4 separate regions of the Homo sapiens genome follow, and all the other regions are linked to region 3. Evidence: fine-mapped expression QTL. A gene starts in region 3. Each other region holds a variant in brackets. All regions are shown on one strand. Distances are from middle to middle.

What was found. PIP is the estimated chance that this variant, and not a neighbour inherited with it, causes the effect.
Region 1: its variant is fine-mapped to the expression of CPTP in whole blood (TOPMed, PIP above 0.99).
Region 2: its variant is fine-mapped to the expression of CPTP in testis (GTEx, PIP 0.92).
Region 4: its variant is fine-mapped to the expression of CPTP in whole blood (INTERVAL, PIP above 0.99).

What each region holds. Positions count from the first base shown.
Region 1 is chr1:1,413,724-1,419,985 of GRCh38, forward strand. ANKRD65 (ankyrin repeat domain 65) reads right to left here. Exons shown (of 4, transcript NM_001145210.3): 4 at 4,697-5,826. The coding sequence ends at 5,377. Among named protein-coding and RNA genes, the nearest start is that of ANKRD65-AS1, 3.3 kb to the right of the region's middle. RefSeq lists enhancers at 4,526-4,605, 4,773-5,222. The variant G/C (reference allele first, on the strand shown) is at 3,435.
Region 2 is chr1:936,440-941,439 of GRCh38, forward strand. SAMD11 (sterile alpha motif domain containing 11) reads left to right here. Exons shown (of 14, transcript NM_001385641.1): 6 at 2,601-2,690; 7 at 2,836-2,973; 8 at 4,705-4,867. Among named protein-coding and RNA genes, the nearest start is that of SAMD11, 15 kb to the left of the region's middle. RefSeq lists an enhancer at 1,496-2,207 and a silencer at 1,934-1,983. The variant G/T (reference allele first, on the strand shown) is at 2,040.
Region 3 is chr1:1,320,075-1,327,358 of GRCh38, forward strand. CPTP (ceramide-1-phosphate transfer protein) reads left to right here and starts at 4,728. Exons shown (of 3, transcript NM_001029885.2): 1 at 4,728-5,028; 2 at 6,762-6,958; 3 at 7,167-7,284. The coding sequence starts at 6,837. INTS11 (integrator complex subunit 11) reads right to left here and starts at 4,586. Exons shown (of 17, transcript NM_017871.6): 1 at 4,507-4,586; 2 at 922-1,019; 3 at 382-455. The coding sequence starts at 4,534. RefSeq lists enhancers at 1,775-2,283, 3,047-3,556 and silencers at 4,375-4,504, 4,685-5,184.
Region 4 is chr1:1,285,760-1,290,759 of GRCh38, forward strand. SCNN1D (sodium channel epithelial 1 subunit delta) reads left to right here. Exons shown (of 18, transcript NM_001130413.4): 7 at 167-519; 8 at 1,009-1,216; 9 at 1,350-1,540; 10 at 1,749-1,837; 11 at 1,914-2,077; 12 at 2,180-2,278; 13 at 4,512-4,629; 14 at 4,718-4,796; 15 at 4,878-4,935. Among named protein-coding and RNA genes, the nearest start is that of SCNN1D, 7.8 kb to the left of the region's middle. RefSeq lists enhancers at 2,230-2,777, 2,778-3,324, 3,597-4,169. The variant T/C (reference allele first, on the strand shown) is at 2,505.

The sequences.
Region 1 (6,262 bases), 93 kb after region 3:
CTACAGGATGAGTGAATCCTTTTCCTTCTCAAGCTATGCAATACTGTCCAATAATTGAGACTTTTAGAACTCAAAAATTGTCAGGGTGGTTCTTTTGGGCTGGGAATTCATCAGGAACTGGGTCTGTAGGAACTAATTCTCGGGCTTCCCATGGCCGCTGATCTCCTGTTACGGTTCCTCCGCAAACACAGCTAGAGGTGACTTGTAGAGACTGGGCTCCATGTTCGGCTAATTGCAAAAACAAAGTTTTAGTTTTTGCTGGAATCTCAGGTACTGACACATTTAGTTCATCATAGAAAGTCTGCAATATGGTTGTGGAGAGCGTTATTGAACCTCTCCTTCTATTAGGATGCTTACGCTAGGATCTAAGCCTTTTCTGTCAATGCCTAATGTTAACACTTTTTTTTATTCCACTTTGGGTCTGAAGGGTTTGTGATTATCAATTCTAAAAGGTTGTAGCTCCCACTCGTGCAGGAGGGGCTGACTTTTCCTTTTTGGAGCCAAACAGGATCTTTTTTATCTTCTTTCCAAGTAGCCCAAATGACACAAGACCAGTATTGACACATCTCACATAAATGTGATTCTTGACAGATATACTTATTTTTTTTTTACTGTGTAACTTTTTTTCCAATTTAGAGAACTGCATCCTATTCCATGCTGCTAACTATTAATAGCGGCACCAGCCTCAAATTTTAAGGTTACATTTTTGGGGACCCCTCTTTCTTCTGTTCTAGCTATTAACTTACTTGTGTCACCTAGAAAAGGACCAGTCCTGTGATCATGGGAGGCTTAAAATGGGTCATAACACGCATCAGTTTGGTTATTTCCTGGGCTGCATACCTTGGATAGAATAGCATCATACAAACAAGTTTCTTTTAGAATCCTGGTACACTTACAATAACCATAAAATAATAGGACTGTAGCAATCTTTTGTCTTACCTCAGTGACTTGATGTATATACTGGAAACAGTTCTCAGTCTGAGGAAGGTCAGTTGAAGTCCTTACTGTACAAGTCCAAATTTTAAGGAAAATGAGTCCCGCGATGAGTTTCCTCATGCTTCGGCTGTACGTGGACCAGTCAGCTTCCGGGTGTGACTGGAGCAGGGCTTGTCGTCTTCTTCAGAGTCACTTTGCAGGGGTTGGCGAAGCTGCTCCCGTCCACGTACAGCTCGAGTCTACTGATGTTTAAAGATGGTCTCGGTGGTTGGGCCCCCTAGAATAAACTGAGTCCAACACTTCTACACAGTTAAGTTTCACTGAGCTCTCTGATACTGGGAGCAAGGTGGCAGGGTTTAGGGTTTTGCAAACTTCAGTGGTTATGTGGGGATTTTCACAGAGCAAGCTTTGGTATCTAGTTAGTCTAGAATTCATTAGCTAATGATGTCCTTTGGTATTTATTAAAGTCACCACAGCATGGGGGGACTTTAGGTTTTGCCTAAGAGTTAGCTTATCTGCTTCTTGTGCTAACAGGGCCGTTGCTGCCAGGGCCCTTGGACAGGGGGGCAGCCTTTGGAAACCCCGTCTAGTTGTTTTGAGAGATAGGCCACTGGCCTTGGCCAGGGCTCTACGGTCTGGGTTAAAACTCCAACTGCTATTTTTTCTCTTTCTGACACATAGAGTGTAAAGAGTTTTGTCAGGTCAGGTAGCCTCGGGGCTGGGGCTGACATGAGTTTTTCTTTTTGACTCATGAAAAGCTCGTTGCTGTTGGTTGGAATGGATGTAGTTTATCTAATCTACATTTTTATTGACTGTCATCTACCAAAATATTGACTTAAATCCTGTAACTATTTGATTTCAAGCTTTAAATTGATCTGGTGTCCCTTGTGGGGCTCCAATTGCGTCTAAATAGATGTGAGAGTTGAAAGACCCATAAGGGGCTTCTCTCGCTTTACGATGTCTTTTTTTTTTTTTCTCCTCTGGTTGATGAAATGCCAGGGTGAAAGGGATAGCCAAACGGACTAAAGCACAAGTGCCACTCTAGTTATTCGGCAGAGTGCCCAGTACAGGTCCACCACAATACCACCACACATCCGCTCACATCCGCTCAGGGATGAACAAGGGCTGACTGATTGATAAGCTCTCGAAAATTCTTAAGCTCACTGCATCCCTTCCAGTCTCCAAGGACTGCTAAGTCTCCTCCCTGCCGTGAGAGACACGAAGGGAACTTAGTTTTGGGAGACGGAAGCTGGATGGCCCTCGGGGGCTGACCCGCAGGGACTGCAGAATGTAGCGGGGAGAGCTTGGCATGACTTGCTGCTCCAGGCTGTAGAATCCTGGAAAAGAGCTACCGTGCAGCCCACGCCTGGTCGACTGAAGGACCACCTTAGTGGAAGGGGGACAATCAGAGCCTTTGGCCTGCCATGTGCACGAGCATCACAATTGCTTTTGTTTAACATCAGATGGAATATCTGATCCATTTCAACCAGGCATTTTGCATCTTGGTATGCTGTCTTAATTGCCAAAGTTTGTTTTAAGTCTTAAACTTCCATGATCCTCTAGTAAAATGAATGTTTCCTTTAGCACCTATTTTTATTAGTTTTTAGACCAAAGAAAGCTAAACACCATTTTATATTTAATAATGCTTCTTGTATGATTTTTATACCAGATAAGCTAAATTTTACCTTTATATTAGTGTGTTATTAATGTTAAACTTAATTTTAATAAAACCTTGTAGACATATTTATCCAATTTTTCATGTTTGACCATAAGGTAAGATTTTATAGACTCTTTTTAACCTTTTATAACTTTTGTTAAAGAGCAGGTTGATGCTTTAAGAAAAACCTGTTGCATTTTTACTTTAATGTCCAGTTCACAGAAAAACTGGACGATACCTTTTTAACTTTAGTTAACATGTTTACACACAGAATTTTCTTTACAATTTACATTTTAAAACTTGCTTAAACTCTTAAAAACAATAATTTTTTTAACCTTTTAATGTAGGTAAAAATCCATATTTTTATGCCCCTTTATAATTTTTTTTACCAAAGGTATATTTTACTTTTCTTGTACACCTTGCACATAAACTTTTTTTTTTAATAGTACTCAGGGGCCAGGCGCGGTGGCTCACGCCTGTAATCCCAGCACTTTGGGGGGCCGAGGCGGGCGGATCACGCGGTCAGGAGATCGAGACCATCTTGGCTAACACGGTGAAACCCCGTCTCTACTAAAAATACAAAAAATTAGCCAGGCGTGGTGGCGGGCGCCTGTAGTCCCAGCTACTCGGGAGGCTGAGGCAGGAGAATGGCGTGAACCCGGGAGGCGGAGCTTGCAGTGAGCCGAGATCACGCCACTGCACTCCAGCCTGGGCAACAGAGTGAGACTCCGTCTCAAAAAAAAAAAAAAAAAAAATAGTACTCAGGAGGCCTTATTACTTTTAAATTATACAACATTTTTTGCATAAATTTTTTATAACATTTTGTTTTACAACTTTCGCC[G/C]ACAATTCTTCAACATATCTCAACTTTCTGCCTTATTACAAACTTTTAAACAACCAGTTAATATATTTCAGGACAAGAATTTACCGTATAACATGCTTTTCACATAAATTCAGCCTCCCCTTTTTTTTTCTTTTTTAAAGCGAACTTTTTTTATGTCTTTGGACTAGACTGTCTGAGGCCACAAGATTAAAAGTTACCATTAACATGTTACACTGTTAACTTTTAGCAAACTTCGCTTTTGTTGAAAACCTTGGAAGTTTGGGATTTCAATTATCCTTTGCTATTAATAAGACCTTGTTTAGTCTAAATTAACTTAGAATTGGTATAGATGGCCTCTTTTTCTCTCTGCTGGTCTTTCCTTGCCTCTGCCAGCCGCTTATGCTGCTGTTCTCTTAACTACCGTAGGGGGGAGGGGGTCTAAAACCTGCTCTAACTGTCCATGTACGGAAACTGGCCTGGGTGCCTTGGCTTACACGTTACCTTGTGTCATACCTTTGAAACAAGGGACCTGTCCAGGCTTCCTTCTGATGGCCAACCCACCTCTAATGCTGACAAGTCTATTTCACACAAAGTTGTAAGTTTTCCTGGTGTCAGAGTAACACCGTAATCTCCCTTAAATTCTTTCTTGAAAAATTTTTTTTAACATAGTTCCTAGTGGGGTGGGCTTATCTGTGCCTGACCCACGCTTCTTCAAGACAAAACACCACGCTCACACCACAAAACAAAAAACAGGTAAAAAGGGCACACACACACTTTTGCAGTTTACACCAAACCAAAATCAAAACCAAAATCAGAGTATCCAGAAATCCAAGCCAGGTCAAAACCAAAACCAAAGTATCACATGATCTCAGTCAAGTCAAAACCAGAACAAAGGTGCTAATGCAGGCACGCCGTGGGCGATCAGGCCACGCGTCTACTCAGGTGGAGTGGGGCAAGTTCCAAAGACTAGTCTTACCAGGTTTCAGATGTCCGGACTCCAAGTGCCAGTTCCTTCCCGGTGTTCAGCCACTGTGTTAATCCACCATGGGGGCCCGTTATGGGCTGCTCTGGCGAGGTGTTCCACCGAGGCAATTTCCTACCCGGGAGCGCTCTTTAGCTCACGTCACTCAGGCTGGCCGGAGTCCCCCGCAGGGATGCTCCACGGGGCAGGCCTAAGCCGCCTAAGGGGCTGCCTCGGTCGTCTGTCAGTTACCTCGTTTCCCAGTCAGGGAACCAAGAAATGTAGCAGGACGAGCCGCAGACAAAACCTCTCAGACACCCAGTTGTAGAAGGAAGGGCTTTATTCAGCTGGGAGCATCGGCAAGCTACTGCCTTAAAATCCGAGCTCCCCAAGTGCACAATTTCTGTCCCTTTTAAGGGCTCACAACACCGAAGATTTCACATGAAAGGGTCGTCATTGATTTGAGCAAGCAGGCGGTACGTGACAGGGGCTGCATGCACCGGCGGTCAGAGAGAAACAGAACACGGCAGGGAGTTTCACAAATGTTCTTCTATACAATGTCTGGAATCTATGAATAACATCGGTTTCTAAGTTATGAATTGATTTTCAACTACTGGGTTTAGGCCAGGCAGGCGCAGGCCTGGTTTCGGGCCTAGCGCCAGGCTGCCTGCCTGTCTTTGGTTTTACTTCCTTGTTGTTTTTTCTTAAAACAGGTACTGAGTATAAAACACTATGAGAGGGTCTCTCTTCCCTCATTGCCACAACTCATTCTTTGTTGAAGTATGGAGAAGGCTGGAGCTGCAGGGTCAGTGGGCCCTCCTGGGAGCTGGGGGCCATCCCTGGTCCAGCCAAGGCCTGTGACTGCAGCTCAAGCCACATCCCCTACTTTCTCCCATCCCCTCCTCCGGAAGCCTCTTCCCTGATGTCCCCTCCAGGCAGGCAGCCTCAGCCAGAGAGCCTGGAAATCACTGGGGCGGTGGAGCCTGGAGCCTGCTGTCTGGCTCAGCCCGTGGACTCTATGCCCTCACACTCCTTCTCCCCCCCTCCAAGTTCAGGCAGCGCCTGGGGCAGGTCCCCCTCAGGCATCTGGGCCACCTCGGCCCACTGCGTCCGCAGAGTGGGGCTGGCCCCTCGGCTCAGCAGAAGCCCCACGGTAGGCCCATGCCCTCGCTCTGCAGCCAGGTGTAGGGGGGTCTTTCGGAGCCAGCCGGTAGCATCCACCTGGGCACCCCTGTCCAGCAGGCAGCCGGCAACCTCCACGTGGCCTTCCCGAGAGGCGTGATGCAGGGGTGTGAGGCCCAGGGTGTCCCGCGCATCCACCTCGGCCCCCTGGGTGACCAGCAACTGGACGGCAAGCAGGTGTCCTCGGGCGGCAGCCCTGTGCAGCGCAGAGCGGCCATGCCTGTCCCTGATGCCTGGGTCTGCCCCGTGGCCCAGCAGCACCTCAATGTCCTAGAAGAGGAGAGAAAAGCAGGGGCCGGCCTCAGCCCGGTAGGCGAGGGGCAGAGCCACCAGGCGTTTGCCCAGCCCAGGCCTCTTCTGTCCCCGCAGCGGCCTGTCTCTCCTGACACCACTTCCTCATGTTGTGAGGCCGAACCCAAGGCTGGCCTGCTTGGAAACGTCCACTTTTCCCCCTAAGAGTCCTTAGAGCAAATCCAAGGATCTGCAGCCAACACCCTGCCCGCTGCCCAGGAACGGGGGTCTCAGGCACAGGCCCGGCGCTGGCGGAGAGTCTGTTGCTGCCACCAGCATGAAGCCGAGCCCCGGGCCTCGGATCCCGCCCTGGTCTCCACGGGACGGGGCTACACCGGAGGGGCACAGCCGGGGGCGCGCTCAGGGCCTTCGTGCCTGGACACCGTCCCCCAGCCTGGCTCCAGCTGCCCCGGTG
Region 2 (5,000 bases), 380 kb before region 3:
GCCTTCTAGGGCTCCGGGAAGGATGGGGTTCTCGGGAGGGAAGGGATCCGGCGCCTGAGGGAGGTGCTGCTGCCTGGTCACAGTTGTGGGGGGACCAGGCCCCCCTCAGAGGGCACTGCTGTAGAGAGGGGCACAGCAGAGCCTCAGCCCCAGGGCAGGCCGTGAAAGGAGGCGGGGGCGCCCCGAGGCCCTGTGGACCCCAGGCAGGGGTGTTCCCAGCAGGGCCTGCATCTCTTGGGAAGGAGGGGTGGGGGAGGCCCACCCCCATCTGTGTCCCCCATCCATGGCCCCCATCCGCGTCCTCGTGCACCTAGGAAGGCCCTTGTGGGGCTGGGTGGGGGCAGCTTCTGATGCCGCGTTGGAGACAGCTGAGAGGCGGTTGATAAAATCTAATTGCCCCATCGATCCAGCAGAGCGGAGGGAGCCCCACAATGATTGAGATATTCTGAGCCAGCAGGCCCTCCCCTGTGCCTTCACACAGGGAGACCTCCTCAGGTACACGCGTGTGCGTGTGCCGGCATGTCTGTGTCTGGGGTCCTGTGGGGTGCACGTGATGGGGGTTGCCCGGCAGCTCTCACCCATGGAGTCAGGACGTGTTCGTGCACTTCCGGGCTCACAGGCTCTACGGGGCCTCACGTGTCCTGGACCCGTGTCCAGGTCTCCCATACGCACTCCGTGTCAGGGTCTGGCCCGCTCCCCGGAGCCTCCTCTTGGAGGGGCATTCACCCTGGGGGGCGTTCACCTCTTCTCCCTTCCTGTGACCCCAGGAACCACACATCCATCCTGTTCCCAGCCCGGGCCCTCCCGCTAAGCCGCACCTCCCTGGGCCCTGGGCTGTGAGGGACTCAGAGCAGGTCCTGCATCTGCCTCTGTGAGACCCGCTGGGGTCCATGAGTGAGGAGTGAGCATGGCCTCATCGGCCTTCCTGCGGTCTCATTGCAGGCCCCCTTCCACCTGCCCCCCCCCCCACCCAGTCACCTCCCCCAGGCTAGGAGGAGGCCTTAGCCCCCCACAGAACGGAGAGGGTAGTTTCCACTGTGTACAATGGAAAAGTGATTGCCAGGAGGTGAGAGGCCTTGCTAACCCTGAGGGCATGTGCATGGTGGGCCAGGTGGCAGGTGTGGAAAAGAGCCAGGTTCCCCCAGCCTTGGCCCACCCCCTCCCAGCCCACCGAGCTCTGGCACGGGAGGCTGTGGGGGAGACGATGGCTTCTCAGGGGCCTGAGCAGTGGTGCCTGGATCCGTGTGTGGCCAGGTGCCCCCCGCCGCCCGCCGGGCCCAGCCACCCGATCTGTCACCGAGGTGGGGACCCTGGACCAGACCGTGGGACTGACCCTCTCTCTGGGGCCGGGCCTGACAGCAGCCGGGCCAGGATCAATAAGTTATTAGCACCACTCTGTCAGCTGTAATGTGGGATTGATCGGTGTGGCCGCCGCACTTCCCCAGCCTGATAAAAATGACAGATTAAGGGAATAAGAAAAAGGAATTAGGCCTGGAGCTGACGGCAGGGCTTGTGGGGGGACGGGCTTGGGAGCCCCACTGCCTAGGCCTCATGGAGGTCTTGGGTCACAGGGGAGTGGCCCCTCACTCCACCCAGCTAGAGCCCTCATGAGGATGAGGAAGGGCCAGAGTCGGAGGCACTGGCTGGCCTGGGAGACCCCCAGGGCGTGGAGTCAGGGGCTTCGGAGGAGCTCGGGGTGGGTCGGAGATGGGTACATGGATGGTGTGGTCTGGAATGGGTGCGGTCGGCAGGACCCAAGGGAGGACCTCAGGAGAGTGAGCTGGGCCTGGCCTGGGCCTCCCCTCTGCCACCTGCTGGGCTGTGTTTGGGGCTGAAGCTGGACCTGGCCTGGGCCTCCCCTCTGCCACCTGCTGGGCTGTGTTTGGGGCTAGGGCTGGGCTGGCCTCGTGGCTGAGGAGGTGGGTGAAGCTACTGGGAGGTGCACCCCAGAAGCCCAGAGCCTGGCTGGGCTGGTGGACAAGGGCATGACAGCCACGCCAGGGTGCTAGCTCAGGCAGGACTGGGCCAGAGAGGAGGAC[G/T]TGGGCCTTCTGGGGGCAGGGATGGGTATGACCAAGTAGGAGGCCTGGGAGTGGAGGCGCCTCGAGGCGGCCTGGGGGGCCCACAGCCCAGTGACTCACAGAGCAGCAAGAGGTCAGGTGTGAGGTCCTTCCCGGCTTGTCTCACCCCACGCTGGCATGTGACCCTGCACAGCCCGCCCTCACTCCTGTCCAGGAGGGGAAGGTGGTGCCTGGTCAAACCAAAAGCTTTTTATTCTCCTCTAGGGGGATGAGAGGGGGGCTCGTTAACTTGCACAAGAGGCTAGATGGCGGGTGGGGCAGCTGGGTGCCTGCTGTGGATCTCTTCTGCACACACGCACCAGGGCCAGTGTCAGAGCTCCCCTGTGCCCCTGTCCCGCCACAGCCAGGCGTGATGTCCTCTGCGCTGAAGGCTGGGGCTGCCAGGGCTGGGCAAGGCCTGTACTCACCAGGACCAAGGGCCCCCTGAGAGATGGTGGGTGCGGTCCAGGCTGAGCTGGAGCAGGGGCTGGGTTCCCCTTCCATTCCTTGAGATGCAGGTGGGCACTCACTACCCTCCCGCAGGTGACCTGTTGGGCAAGAGGCTGGGCCGCTCCCCCCGTATCAGCAGCGACTGCTTTTCAGAGAAGAGGGCACGAAGCGAATCGCCTCAAGGTAAGAGCGTGGCTGGGACGAGAGACAGGTCACCAGGGGAGGGGGCAGTCCCTGAGGGTCCCCTGGACCTCGAGCAGGCACTCTAGAGGGGCGTGGTCCTCGGCAGTGCCTGGAGAAACCTCTCACCCCGGGTCCTCCCCAGCAGAGGCGCTGCTGCTGCCGCGGGAGCTGGGGCCCAGCATGGCCCCGGAGGACCATTACCGCCGGCTTGTGTCAGCACTGAGCGAGGCCAGCACCTTTGAGGACCCTCAGCGCCTCTACCACCTGGGCCTCCCCAGCCACGGTGAGGACCCACCCTGGCATGATCCCCCTCATCACCTCCCCAGCCACGGTGAGGACCCACCCTGGCATGATCTCCCCTCATCACCTCCCCAGCCACATGTACTCGGCCATTCCTGTTGCTGAGGCCCTGCTGACACCAAGGCCAGGCTGGATGCAGGTCCCTCTGCCACACGTCCTGCCCCATGCCCCCTGGGGCGGGCCACACCTCCATGTCCCCTAGGTCCCCAGGGTCATGACTAGCTCACATTTTATATAGAGAGAAATGGAGTCTGGGGTGGACCCAGGTGAGGGTGGGCAGTGGGCATGTCAGCAGCACCCCCCGAGGAGAGCAAGCTCCTGGACCCTGTGGTCTGTGAGTCGTCTATGCAGCCAGTGGACGCCGACCTGCCAGACGCCTGCCCCAGGAGCCTGGGGAGGGGCAGTGAGCAGAAAGGCCGGGCTGGGTGCAGTGGGCACTTGGCCACCAGGACTCCCCAGGTGCTGAAGAGACGCCAGCTGGAGGGGCTGCCCCTTCCCCCGGGTCGGCCCTGACCCTGTCCACCCCACCTCAGGACGTTCTCCAGGGGTCCCTCCGGGATGCACTCGGACCCCCTGCCCGCTGCACTCAGCCTCCCAGGCCCCAGCCGCCCGCCTGGCAGGGGAGCTTGGCTTTTCGGGCTAGAGGTGGGTGGGGGCGCCGGGAAAGGAGGCAGGATTCCTCACACCAGGCACCGTCCCCCAGGGCAGCTCAGGCACCAAGAGCCTGAATAATTCACCAAATGTTAATAATGTAAAAATCCTCCTTTTTAATTGCTTTCCCTGCTCTGCCTGGGGCCGCTCTGCTGGCCGCGCGGGGGAGGGGCGCCGGCCGCCGGGGAGCGCGCTGTCAATCAGGCCGCGCCGCCGCCCCCCCCCCCCGCCCCGCCGCGGAGCCGGCCGTAAATAACCCTGTAACTAACCCGGCCGCTAGCGCGGGGGCGCTGGGCCCCGCTGGGATCGATGCGGGCGGCCGCGCCGGCTGGGCTCTGCGGGCTGGCACCCGGCCCGGGGCGGGACCCACCTCCGCTTTCGGGTAATTAATTTATAAACAGAGGCGGCGGTGGAGCTGGCGGAGCCTGCATAGTGGGGGCTGCGGGGACTCGGGAGGCCCGGGCGGGAGGGAGAGGCCGAGAGACCTGGGACGCGGCGCCTTAGACGCGGGCGCTGCGTGCGCATTGGGGCGAGTGTGGCCACGCGGGACAGTGACCCTGCGCAGCCGGGACTGGGCGACCCCTGTGCTAGTGTGGCGTGCGTGCGCGGGCGCTGCCTTGCCTTTGTGACAAGCTTTGGCCAGCCGCGTCTACTATGGGGACCTCAGATTTTCTTGCCTCCCACCGAAGAGGGGGTCCCCTGGGCGGTCAGCCCCTGGCTGGCACTTCTGGACTCTCTCGCTGCCCCGCAGGCTCTGTGGCCTCGGGACGTCTGCACAGCCCCCTCCCCGCAAGGCTCAGCCGCCTCTCAGGCCGGAAGCCTCCAGGCACCCGGCTCCCCTTCGGGGAAGAGCTTTTCCCGACACTTCCTCGCCCAGCATCTTGTCTGCCGTCTCGGCCCTGTGGCCGCCCATCCTCCTGCCCCGTGCCCGAGACCAGCCCAGGGGCCGAGCACGGCCGAGTGGTGTGGTCAGTTCCCCACCTCAGTGTTCTACGCCAGGACGCGGGCTGGGGAGGATGAGGGCGCATAGCCGGGGGGATCACTGCTGTTGTCCCCCACCCAGATCTCCTGAGGGTCCGGCAGGAGGTGGCGGCTGCAGCTCTGAGGGGCCCCAGTGGCCTGGAAGCCCACCTGCCCTCCTCCACGGCAGGTCAGCGTCGGAAGCAGGGCCTGGCTCAGCACCGGGAGGGCGCCGCCCCAGCTGCCGCCCCGTCCTTCTCGGAGAGGTACTGGGGTGGCTGCCGTTCTCTGCTTGTTTCTGGGGTGCCGCCCGCACCCCCGCGCTCTCAGCCACCAGCACGCGCCCCGAGAGTGCCAAGCACTGTGTTCAGCTCTAGGTTCGGGTCCGGGCAGAGCGTT
Region 3 (7,284 bases):
TCCAGACGAGGCCACCCAGACCAGCGGGTCATGAGCTGCTGAACCCTAAAGGCTGGGGTCAGGGCAGACTCGGGACTCTGGAATCGCCAACAAGACAGTGGGGTTTAAAGATCCTGAGACAGTGAAGGCATCAGAGAGGGTGAAGCCTGGAGGGCCGGGTTCAGAAAGTAGGGTTCAGAGGGCAGGGCCGGAAGAACAGACAGAGACCAGGCCATGTGTGTGACCAGTAAGGCAGGCAGGGAGCAGATCCTGGGGCCTAGAAGCCCCCTGAGGATCAAGGATGGCACAGGCCCCTTGCCAAACGCTGCCGAGACCAAGCAAGGTGGCCCAAGCCCCACAGGCACAGACATGGGACCCTCAAGGCCCCCAACAGGAACCCACCTAATGATCACACAGTCCAGGAAGTCTGTTAGGCGGCCGTTCTGGGTGATGTAGGAGAAGTCAGGGAAGCGTCGCTAGGAAGGATGTGGGGGTTTCAGGTTGCACAGTGGTCTCCAGGCAGCATCTGGGGCCACCCATGCCCCAGGGAGGGGCCCCCAGGAAGGGGGGTTCTATGTGCAGACTCAGGCTGGGCACTCCCATCCCGCAGGTGGCACCAGGACCCCTGGCTGCTCACAGCATCCGGAGGGGCCGAGGTTACCCCCAACCTCACTGACAGATGTGAGCTGGAAGCTGAGCCCAGGGTCTCACGGAGTCCAGCCTACAGGACCCCGGGGCTGGGGCTCAGCGCCAGCACAGGGGGACCCCACCATGCAGGGGCTCACCTCGGCCAGGCCCACCCATCCCTGCTCCCCACAGGGTGCAGCCATCCAAGCACAACCACTGCTGCCCACCACCCCACTGTCCCGGCTCTGAGGCCCAGGGTCCAGCTGTGGATGGCCGGCTCTCCCAGCCTCTGGGCCTCCTGCCCAAGGGACTCACGTCGTCATTGAAGCCCATGTGCATTCCACAGTCCAGCATGACATTCTTGCCCGCAATGGAGACCAGGATGCAGCTTCGGCCCACGTCCTGGCCGGCCCCTACTCGAGGGAGGGCAGATGAGTCACTGCTGCGCCCCCCGCCCCCTGTGCTGCCTCCCCAAGCTCTGCAGGACCCCAGTGCACTGAGGAAACCGGACCAAGTCTGCTGTGTGGACAGACACATGGGCCAAGAAGCAGGGCCACCCCTACTCACAGGAAGGGGGACACAGGGGACCATGCCCCACACCATCATGTCCAGGGTGGAGGCTGGCAGCCCACACGCCCTCCCCCGCCAGCTTCCCCTGGCCTCTTAAGGTGGCCACGGCCTGCTGGCTAAGTAGTGGGCACTGTGCTGTGGCCCTCAGCCTCCAACAGAGACAACGGCTGGTCTGTGGGGCCAACACCTCGGTCAGAGTCACTCCTGGGCTGTGGCTGGACCCCCAGCAGAGCTGCAAACCAATGAGGCCACCTTCTCCAGGATCTTTCCCCAGGCAGGCAAGGCAGTAAGTGACTAAGTGCTGGCACTGGGTGTTCTCTGGTGGTGCGGCTGTGGAGGGGCGCCACACAGCCTCAGCCATGCCATAGCGAACACGGTGCCAGTGGTCCAGCAGTGGCCAGCGTGGCAACACGAGCCTCACACCACTGCACACCATGCAGCCCCCAACACAGACCCTCATCTGCAGCCCTCCCACACTCCTGACAGCCAAGCAGCCCTGCCCAGCTGCTCCAGCCAGAGGCCTTGGCCAGCCAAGGCACACTCAGCCCCCTCATGTGGCCTGGGGGCCCGAGAGGAAAGGGTCACGGCCCCTGCACAGACTGTGCCTGGGCAGGAGTCTGATGGCAGTGAACAGTTTTCCCCTTGAATCCCACCCACCTCCCCCTGCCAGCCACTCGAAGTGTCCAAAGCCAGCACCACACATCAGGATGACGGGGCCACAGCCGAGGGGCTGCCTGCCACAGAGAGGGGATCTCAGGTTCTCTTCCAGGCCTGTTCCTGCCCCCGCTGGGTGTGAGCTCTCTGAGAGCAGGGTCTCAGCTGTCTCCTCCCTCTGCATCTCCTACCCCAAGCCACGCCAGGCTCACAGAGGCCCTCTGGCACCTGTGGGAAGGGAGGGCCGCCCCTCTTCATGCCCAGGGACCTAAGGCCACAGAGGCACTTGTGGCACACGGCCCCGAGGCATGGGGCCCGGGCTGGTTTTCTGAATTCCAAAGCCCAGTCCTGAAGTACTGGCAGTCCCGCCTCCCGACAGGACCCACAGTGATCCCAGGAAGGAAAGTGGAAAGGTGCGGGAATAGAGCCTGGAGATACACGAGGGGACAGGGCTCAGAAGACAGGAGGAGATATCCCTGTCAGCAAGGAGACAGACGGCAGACAAACAAGACACCCAAAGCACGCCAGACGAAGGTTACTATGACAGAAAAGAGCAAGGTGAGAGAATGAGGAAGCCTCAAAACTTCCAGAACCATGACAGGAGACTGCTCCGAGAAGCCAACTTTTGAGCAGGGGAGGGGAGGGGTAGGGTGGGGGAGGGGGAGGGACGGGGTGGGGAAGGGATGGTCCAGGGGAGGAGAAGAAGCGGGGCGGGCGGAGGGAGGACAGGCAGCAGGGAGGGACAGGCAGGGGGGAGGGAAGGGACCAGCAGGGGGAGGGACGGGCAGGGTGGGTGGGGGGACCGGCGGTGGGGAGGGATGGGCAGGGTGGGTAGGGGGACCGGCGGCGGGGGGGGTAGCCACACACAGGCCAAGGCGTGGGAGTGACCCCAAGGACACAGCAGTGGTCCAGTGAGCGCGGACACGGAGCCCGAGGCAGTCCCTGGTGCAGGGAAGCGGTGAAACAGGACTTCGGCTTTGATGATACCTTGGCTGAGGTGACCTTGAGAATATACCCAGGTACAGATTGCGGGTAATTGAAGCCACATGAAAGATCAGAAAGATCAGATGTCCAGAGAGTGGGCAGAACAGGCAGCCAAGAGGCCAAATGGGAAAGGGGCAGGCTGGGAGGACCCCACGGAGGACCCAGAGAGCAGGGGAGGGCAGTGGGGCCCATGCAAACAGCTGCAAAATGCCATGGGGTGTGCACAGGCCAGGGGTGTTCACAGCACAGTGTCCACACCGGGGCGGGGGGCACCCTCCGAGGAAGCGCTCACGCCATGGGGGAGGACATGGAATCCCGTCCTGGTGTCTGTGCTGGAAGGTGCCCTCGACCCCCTGCCCGGTGGAAGGACCAGGTTCCAGGACAGCACAGGGCAGGCACCTGTGGAAAACGCTAAGGACATCAGGATGACTGGCCACCAACACCATGTCCCTCCAGCTGTTTCTGAGACCCTGGATTTTGACTAATTTTTTCCTTCTTCACATCGTTCTATACTGTTACGACTTTGACTTTCTTTTGAGACATGGTTTTGCTGTCACCCAGGCTGGAGTGCAGTGGCACAATCATGGCTCACTGCAGCCTCAACCTCCTGGGCTCAAGCAATCCTCACAACTCAGCCTCCCAAGTAGCTTGAACCACAGGCACACACCACCACGCCCTGCCAATTTTAGCATTTTTTTTTTTTGGAGTGATGGGGTCTTGCCATGTTGGCTAGGTTGGTCTTGAACTCCTGGGCTCAAGCGATCCTCCCACCTCTGCCTTCCAAAGTGCTGTGATTGCAGGCGTGAGCCACAGTGCCCAGACTGTCAGGACTTTTAGGAGTACATATTTGCGTTTTTTGCTATTTTTTTCAGTGTTGCAGAAATCAGGTAGAACAAGAGCTAAAGTGAGAGTTGATTGTAACTCGGGCGTGAGCACACAGAGTGGTGGACAGAAAGCAAGACGTGAGGAGGCAGAAGCGGGGCTGGGGGGCTGAGGGGCTTGCGGGGTTAAGGGGCTTGGGGGCTGGGGGACTGGGGGGCTGAGGGGCTGGGGGGCTGAGGGTCTGGGGGTCTGCTGGGCTGAGGGGCTGGGGGACTGAGGGGCTGGGGGACTGAGGGTCTGCTGGGCTGAGGGTCTGGGGGACTGGAGCGCTGGGGGGCTGGGGGGCTGAGGGACTGAGGGGCTGAGGGGCTGGGAGGCTGAGAGGCTGGGGAGCTGGGGGGCTGAGGGTCTGCGGGGCTGAGGGGCTGGGGGGCTGGGGGGCTGAGGGGCTGGGGGGCTGAGGGGCTGGGAGGCTGAGAGGCTGGGGAGCTGGGGGGCTGAGGGTCTGCGGGGCTGAGGGGCTAAGGGACTGAAGGGCTGGTAGGGCTGGAGGCGGCAGCGCGCGGCACGGGGAGGTCAAGGCACCGACGAAAGCGCACAGCGAGCGCGAAGGCCCCGCGGCCCCATCTGCGACGTCCCCTCACGGCCGCCTGAACCTCGGGGCTCGCGTTCTCGCGTCACTGCCGGAGGCCCGGGGTGCAGGGACTAGGCCGCCTCTCGGCTCCCACCAGGGCCCGCGCGGGGAGGAGACCGGAGGACGCCCGCGGCGCGCACCTGGCTCCACGAGAAACGGGAGGGAGCGGGGCGCCCAGCCCGCCCGGAGCCGCATACGGAGCCCACCCCACAGCCCTCCCGGCGGCTCCCACTCACCCAAGGGCGTGACTCTGATCTCAGGCATCGTCTCCGCCGCGCTCCCGGACCCGCGAGGCCCGCCTGCGGTGATGCACTGCGCAGGCGCAACCACCTCGCTGCAACTTCCGGTGCGCTAGCCGGAAACGCGGGTCGGGGCGCCGGGCCTCCTGATTGGGCAGCATCCAACCAATCAGGGCGGCGGGCGAGGGCGGGGCGAGGGCGGGGCGGTGGGCGGGGACGGGGCCCGCACGGCGGCTACGGCCTAGGTGAGCGGCTCGGACTCGGCGGCCGCACCTGCCCAACCCAACCCGCACGGTCCGGAAGTCGCCGAGGGGCCGGGAGCGGGAGGGGACGTCGTCCTAGAGGGCCGGAGCGGGCGGGCGGCCGAGGACCCGGCTCCCGCGCAGGACGGAGCCGTGGCTCAGGTCGGCCCCTCCCCAACACCACCCCGGGCCTCCGCCCCTTCCTGGGCCTCTCGGTGGAGCAGGGACCCGAACCGGTGCCCATCCAGTCCGGTGCCATCTGAAGCCCCCTTCCCAGGTGAGACTCGTAGCGCTCGCTCGACAGGGTCTGGTCCCACCCACAAGGCCTGGGGCGCCGTGGGGCCCCGTCTCCTGCTGGCCCCCCAGCCTGCTGTCAGCCCCCGTGCTCTGTGCTCAGGCCGCCCTCGCGCCCGGCCCTGACCTTGGGCCGTTGGGCTGCCCTGGGAAAGGCCTGGAGGTGTCCTGGGTCACCTTCCTGGGCTGGCAAGCTGCCTGCCTCCTGCACAGCCACTGCCCTTCCTGTTGTTACCGAGCCACCAGCCACAGCTCTGAGAAGCTCCTGGCAGCTTCTGTTTGCCACTGGCTCGAATCTGGGCAGGAAGGCAAGGCCCGCAGAATATCTGGTGACCAAGAAGGAAACCCCAGAGCCTCAGAGACCATCTTCTCAGTGGACAAAATTAAGGCCCGAGGAGGGGAGGGGCGTGCTGGAAGTCTATGGGACTGCATCTTTCTGAGGCCCAGGAGCAGCCATCCCCCACACCTGAAGCCCGGTGAGCTCACATCTGGGGCCTCCGCCTGGTGCCAAGCATGCAACCCAACCTGTGGGGCCTGCAACGCCAGGCTTCAGCACCCTGCAGGCACCAGTGCTCCAGCAGCCTGGGCCACGGGCTGGGCAGGGCTTGCAGCCCATGATCCCTAGTGATGAAGGGCCCAGTCCTAGGGTGCTGAGCAACCTGCCCACCTGCTCCTGGCCAGGAGCTCTCACCACGGCTGGGTGCCCTTCCCCCTCCCCCACCGATGGAGTCCCTGCAGCCAGGGAGGCCAGGACAGGGCTCCCAGCACCAACCGGCCTAGGAACCCCCAGGCCCTCTTCCTGGTCGAGGTGGAATGCAGCTGACTCTCAGGTTCCCCAGAGCAGGTGCGGGCCCGTGGGGCACCCGGGGAGACAGGGCAAGGGTGCTTGGCAACACTCACACAAAGCATGGGTGCCTGGATGTCTGTGGATCTGTGGAGTGACTATGTGAATGCCAGCAGAATCCAAAGCAGGGCCTGGGCCACTCGTGGAAGGCTCCCTAGGGCTAGTACAAGAGCCTCGTGGCAATCTTCTGAGTGGTAAAACCCATCTGTGTGGGACATGGAGTTTCAGCAACAGGAGTGAAAACACGTGTCCATCCATCCAGCAAGTGCCAGCCCTACAGCCTCTTTTCTGCTTTTGGGGATGTAGCAGTGAGGAAGATGGGGCAGCCTGCCCGGCAGCATCCCCCCACCCCCGGCCCCACCTGTCTCTGCTTTCTGCTGTGTCTGTTTTCTTGTCTAGGACTTCAGAACTTCCTGTCTTTGTTGTCATCTGACCCCACCCCAGATGGCTGCTCGCACTCCCCATGCACCCAGATAGATGGCTAGGATGGTGCTTGGCTCTCGGCAGGGGCTTAGTATTTCTCCAGCTGGTAAAAGCAGATACAGCATCTAGAGAGAGAAACAAAAACAAGAAAGCACCAGCAGAGACACCTGCTGCAGACAGCGGGGCCTAGTGGTCTGATAAAGCCAGAGGGGGCCACTCTCGGGGTCAGGGACTGACACGGAGTCAGTGGCCTGATCCACAGGAGGGGCTGTGCCAAGGTCCCTGAATGCGCAATCCTGATGAAGGGTGGGTCAGGGTGGTGTGCCTGAGAGCCTGCGGCTTGGCTGGGAGCAGAGCCAGGCAGCTCCTGGGAGGAAGCTCCATGAGGGGCATGAGTGTTCAGTGAGCGGCAATGGGATCGCAGCTATTTTGTTCCCCTCCACACACAGAAAATGAGCCACAGAGCAAGCTGACCCCAGCGACACAGCCCCCCAGCCCTACTGTATTTCCGTTCCTATCAAAAAATGGATGACTCGGAGACAGGTTTCAATCTGAAAGTCGTCCTGGTCAGTTTCAAGCAGTGTCTCGATGAGAAGGAAGAGGTCTTGCTGGACCCCTACATTGCCAGCTGGAAGGGCCTGGTCAGGTGCGTGTGCCAGGGCTGCCTCCTGAGGTGGGCGCTCCCCTGGCCCGAGTCCCATATGTGGCATCTGCCTCCCGACTGCCTGTCCCCACCAGCTTTGCTGCCCGTTTCCAGATGGGTGTGAGCCCCCGCAGGCTGGGCAGCGTCCCCTGCACCCCAGGCGGGCTGCCCCAGGCCTGGGCGAGGACTCGAGCCCCGCTCCCTTCCACAGGTTTCTGAACAGCCTGGGCACCATCTTCTCATTCATCTCCAAGGACGTGGTCTCCAAGCTGCGGATCATGGAGCGCCTCAGGGGCGGCCCGCAGAGCGAGCACTACCGCAGCCTGCAG
Region 4 (5,000 bases), 35 kb before region 3:
GTGTATCCGGGGAGAAGGGCGCAGTGTCAGAGCACCCTGGGAGGGGCTTGTCCGAGCGACCGAGCAGGTAGGGCGGGGCACTGGTGGCTGACAGACATGACAGGCCCAGGGTAGGGAGGCCTGAGTGGGTGCAGGCCGGGCCCTGCTGAGGCCACTCTGCACACAGGCTGCAGCCCAGACGCCCCCCAGGCCGGGGCCACCATCAGCACCACCACCACCACCCAAGGAGGGGCACCAGGAGGGGCTGGTGGAGCTGCCCGCCTCGTTCCGGGAGCTGCTCACCTTCTTCTGCACCAATGCCACCATCCACGGCGCCATCCGCCTGGTCTGCTCCCGCGGGAACCGCCTCAAGACGACGTCCTGGGGGCTGCTGTCCCTGGGAGCCCTGGTCGCGCTCTGCTGGCAGCTGGGGCTCCTCTTTGAGCGTCACTGGCACCGCCCGGTCCTCATGGCCGTCTCTGTGCACTCGGAGCGCAAGCTGCTCCCGCTGGTCACCCTGTGTGACGGGAACCCACGTCGGTGAGGGCCAGGGCTGTCGGCGGGAGGGGTGGCCGCCCCAGCTCCTTGCCCCTGTGACCGTCTCTAACCGAAGCCCCACTGGCCCCTGTAGCCGAGGAGGGGGCTCTGTGTGGTCAATGCCACCCTCCTGGTCACTGTGACCTCCCAAACCTCGGTGCCCAGCCCGGACCTCTCGGACTGCCAAGGAGGGGGCTCAGTGTGGTCACTGCCCCCTGGAGGGACACCAGGGCCCTCGGGAGCCTGGGAGGAGAGGTGGGGGTGGGCGAGGCTTTCCAGAAGGAGGGAAGGTGGGAGGGGCTGCGAGCGGGCTGGGCTCCGGGGCCGACCTCACCGGCAGCCACGGCCTCCAACTCCAGCTCTGGGTCCAGCTCACCCCACTGGGCGTCCCGAGTAGGGGAGGCACTGCTGTCCCGACAGCACACACTGGGATGCTGGGGCCAGTGTGAGGCCCCGGGCCGGCAACTCTGACTCCAGGGCCCTGCGTCCCAGGCCGAGTCCGGTCCTCCGCCATCTGGAGCTGCTGGACGAGTTTGCCAGGGAGAACATTGACTCCCTGTACAACGTCAACCTCAGCAAAGGCAGAGCCGCCCTCTCCGCCACTGTCCCCCGCCACGAGCCCCCCTTCCACCTGGACCGGGAGATCCGTCTGCAGAGGCTGAGCCACTCGGGCAGCCGGGTCAGAGTGGGGTTCAGACTGGTGAGTGTCCCAGCCGGGGCCTGCAGCCATCAGGGCCTTGAGCTGGGAGCACGGCCCTGCGCTGCTGGTACCTCGAGTGGGGAGCGGGGCCTGGGCTGTAGCCACAGAGCTGACCCTCCCTCCCCTCTCCCAGTGCAACAGCACGGGCGGCGACTGCTTTTACCGAGGCTACACGTCAGGCGTGGCGGCTGTCCAGGACTGGTACCACTTCCACTATGTGGATATCCTGGCCCTGCTGCCCGCGGCATGGGAGGACAGCCACGGGAGCCAGGACGGCCACTTCGTCCTCTCCTGCAGTTACGATGGCCTGGACTGCCAGGCCCGGTGAGTGTGGCGGGCGGGGGCCACTCCTTCCGTCCCACCCCACAGAGCGTGGCCGCACCCCTGGGGTCCCTCTGGCTGTATGCTGGGAGCCACCCAAGGCTGGCCGGAGGAACTTTCCGCAGACACAGGGCAGGCCATGGCCCCTCAGGCCAGCGTGACGGGCGCGGGCAGCCGACATTCAAGGTCTGAGCTTGGCTTCTCATTCCAGACAGTTCCGGACCTTCCACCACCCCACCTACGGCAGCTGCTACACGGTCGATGGCGTCTGGACAGCTCAGCGCCCCGGCATCACCCACGGTGGGTGCCAGCCCCTGGCCGGTGCGGGGGCAGGGGTGCAGGTCAGGTGGCCTCACACCAGCCCTTGGCCTCCCAGGAGTCGGCCTGGTCCTCAGGGTTGAGCAGCAGCCTCACCTCCCTCTGCTGTCCACGCTGGCCGGCATCAGGGTCATGGTTCACGGCCGTAACCACACGCCCTTCCTGGGGCACCACAGCTTCAGCGTCCGGCCAGGGACGGAGGCCACCATCAGCATCCGAGAGGTGAGCTGGCCTCTGCAGCCAACCTCCGGCCCAGGCCTCCTGCCCAACCTGGGCTTTGGGGGGTGAGGGCAGGGCCCATGGAACTGAAGCGTCCCCTCCCAGGACGAGGTGCACCGGCTCGGGAGCCCCTACGGCCACTGCACCGCCGGCGGGGAAGGCGTGGAGGTGGAGCTGCTACACAACACCTCCTACACCAGGCAGGTGAGGCTGGGCTGGCAGGGGGTGCGGGGGCAGGTGAGGCTGGGCTGGCCAGGGGGTGTGGGCGGGTGGAACGGGGGAGGGGTCTGGGAGAGTACTAGAGGGCCTGGGAACGGGGCAGTCCCCGTGGAGGCCCGCACTCCATCCCCCGTGTCCCCGCTCCATTCCCTGTGTCTCTGCTCCGTCCCGTGTCTCTGCTCCGTCCCGTGTCTCTGCTCCGTCCCGTGTC[T/C]CTGCTCCGTCCCCCGAGTCTCTGCTCCGTCCCGTGTCTGCTCCGTCCCGTGTCCCTGCTCCGTCCCGTGTCTCTGCCCCGTCCCCCGTGTCTCTGCTCCGTCCCGTGTCCCTGCTCCGTCCCGTGTCCCTGCTCCGTCCCGTGTCCCTGCTCCGTCCCGTGTCCCTGCTCCGTCCCGTGTCTCTGCTCCGTCCCCCGTGTCTCTGCTCCGTCCCGTGTCTCTGCTCCGTCCCGTGTCTCTGCCCCGTCCCGTGTCCCTGCTCCGTCCCGTGTCTCTGCTCCGTCCCCCGTGTCTCTGCTCCGTCCCCCGTGTCTCTGCTCCGTCCCGTGTCTCTGCTCCGTCCCCCGTGTCTCTGCTCCGTCCCCCGTGTCTCTGCCCCGTCCCGTGTCTCTGCTCCGTCCCGTGTCTCTGCTCCGTCCCGTGTCCCTGCTCCGTCCCCCGAGTCTCTGCTCCGTCCCGTGTCTCTGCTCCGTCCCGTGTCTCTGCTCCGTCCCGTGTCCCTGCTCCGTCCCGTGTCTCTGCTCCGTCCCCCGTGTCCCTGTTCCGTCCCCCGAGTCTCTGCTCCGTCCCGTGTCTCTGCTCCGTCCCGTGTCTCTGCTCCGTCCCGTGTCTCTGCTCCGTCCCGTGTCCCTGCTCCGTCCCGTGTCTCTGCTCCGTCCCCCGTGTCCCTGTTCCGTCCCCCGAGTCTCTGCTCCGTCCCGTGTCTCTGCTCCGTCCCGTGTCTCTGCTCCGTCCCGTGTCTCTGCTCCGTCCCGTGTCCCTGCTCCGTCCCCCGAGTCTCTGCTCCGTCCCGTGTCTCTGCTCCGTCCCCCGAGTCTCTGCTCCGTCCCCCGTGTCCCTGCTCCGTCCCGTGTCCCTGCTCCGTCCCGTGTCTCTGCCCCGTCCCGTGTCCCTGCTCCGTCCCCCGTGTCTCTGCTCCGTCCCCCGTGTCTCTGCTCCGTCCCGTGTCTCTGCTCCGTCCCCCGTGTCTCTGCTCCGTCCCGTGTCTCTGCTCCGTCCCCCGTGTCCCTGCTCCGTCCCGTGTCCCTGCCCCGTCCCGTGTCTCTGCCCCGTCCCGTGTCCCTGCTCCGTCCCCCGTGTCTCTGCTCCGTCCCCCGTGTCTCTGCTCCGTCCCGTGTCTCTGCTCCGTCCCCCGTGTCTCTGCTCCGTCCCGTGTCTCTGCTCCGTCCCCCGTGTCTCTGCTCCGTCCCGTGTCTCTGCCCCGTCCCCCGTGTCTCTGCTCCGTCCCGTGTCTCTGCTCCGTCCCCCGTGTCTGCTCCGTCCCGTGTCCCTGCTCCGTCCCGTGTCCCTGCTCCGTCCCGTGTCCCTGCTCCGTCCCGTGTCTCTGCTCCGTCCCGTGTCTCTGCTCCGTCCCGTGTCTCTGCTCCGTCCCGTGTCTCTGCTCCGTCCCGTGTCCCTGCTCCGTCCCCCGAGTCTCTGCTCCGTCCCGTGTCTCTGCTCCGTCCCGTGTCCCTGCTCCGTCCCCCGTGTCTCTGCTCCGTCCCCCGTGTCTCTGCTCCGTCCCGTGTCTCTGCTCCGTCCCCCGTGTCCCTGCTCCGTCCCGTGTCTCTGCTCCGTCCCCCGTGTCTCTGCCCCGTCCCGTGTCCGTCCCCCGAGTCTCTGCTCCGTCCCGTGTCTCTGCTCCGTCCCGTGTCTCTGCTCCGTCCCGTGTCTCTGCCCCGTCCCCCGTGTCTCTGCTCCGTCCCGTGTCTCTGCTCCGTCCCCCGTGTCTGCTCCGTCCCGTGTCCCTGCTCCGTCCCGTGTCCCTGCTCCGTCCCGTGTCTCTGCTCCGTCCCGTGTCCCTGCTCCGTCCCGTGTCTCTGCTCCGTCCCGTGTCTCTGCTCCGTCCCGTGTCTCTGCTCCGTCCCGTGTCTCTGCTCCGTCCCCCGTGTCTCTGCTCCGTCCCGTGTCTCTGCTCCGTCCCGTGTCCCTGCTCCGTCCCGTGTCCCTGCTCCGTCCCGTGTCTCTGCCCCGTCCCCCATGTCTCCGCTCCATCCCATGTCCCTGCTCATCCCCCCTGTCCCCAGGCCTGCCTGGTGTCCTGCTTCCAGCAGCTGATGGTGGAGACCTGCTCCTGTGGCTACTACCTCCACCCTCTGCCGGCGGGGGCTGAGTACTGCAGCTCTGCCCGGCACCCTGCCTGGGGTGAGTCCTGCTCGCTGCCTCCCACTCTGTCAGCCATTAGCCGGGGGGTCACAGCGAGCCTCACACATGCCTCTGACCCCTCCCCAAGGACACTGCTTCTACCGCCTCTACCAGGACCTGGAGACCCACCGGCTCCCCTGTACCTCCCGCTGCCCCAGGCCCTGCAGGTGAGACGGGGGTGTTGGGGTCGCGGCCAGGGATCATTGCCCCAGGTAGCGTGGCAGGTGACACCCGGCTGTCTCTTCCAGGGAGTCTGCATTCAAGCTCTCCACTGGGACCTCCAGGTGGCCTTCCGCCAAGTCAGCTGTGAGTCCCCAAAGTGGTGGGGTGGGGGTGTGGACAGCCAGGCAGACCCCACAGGTCCCACAGAG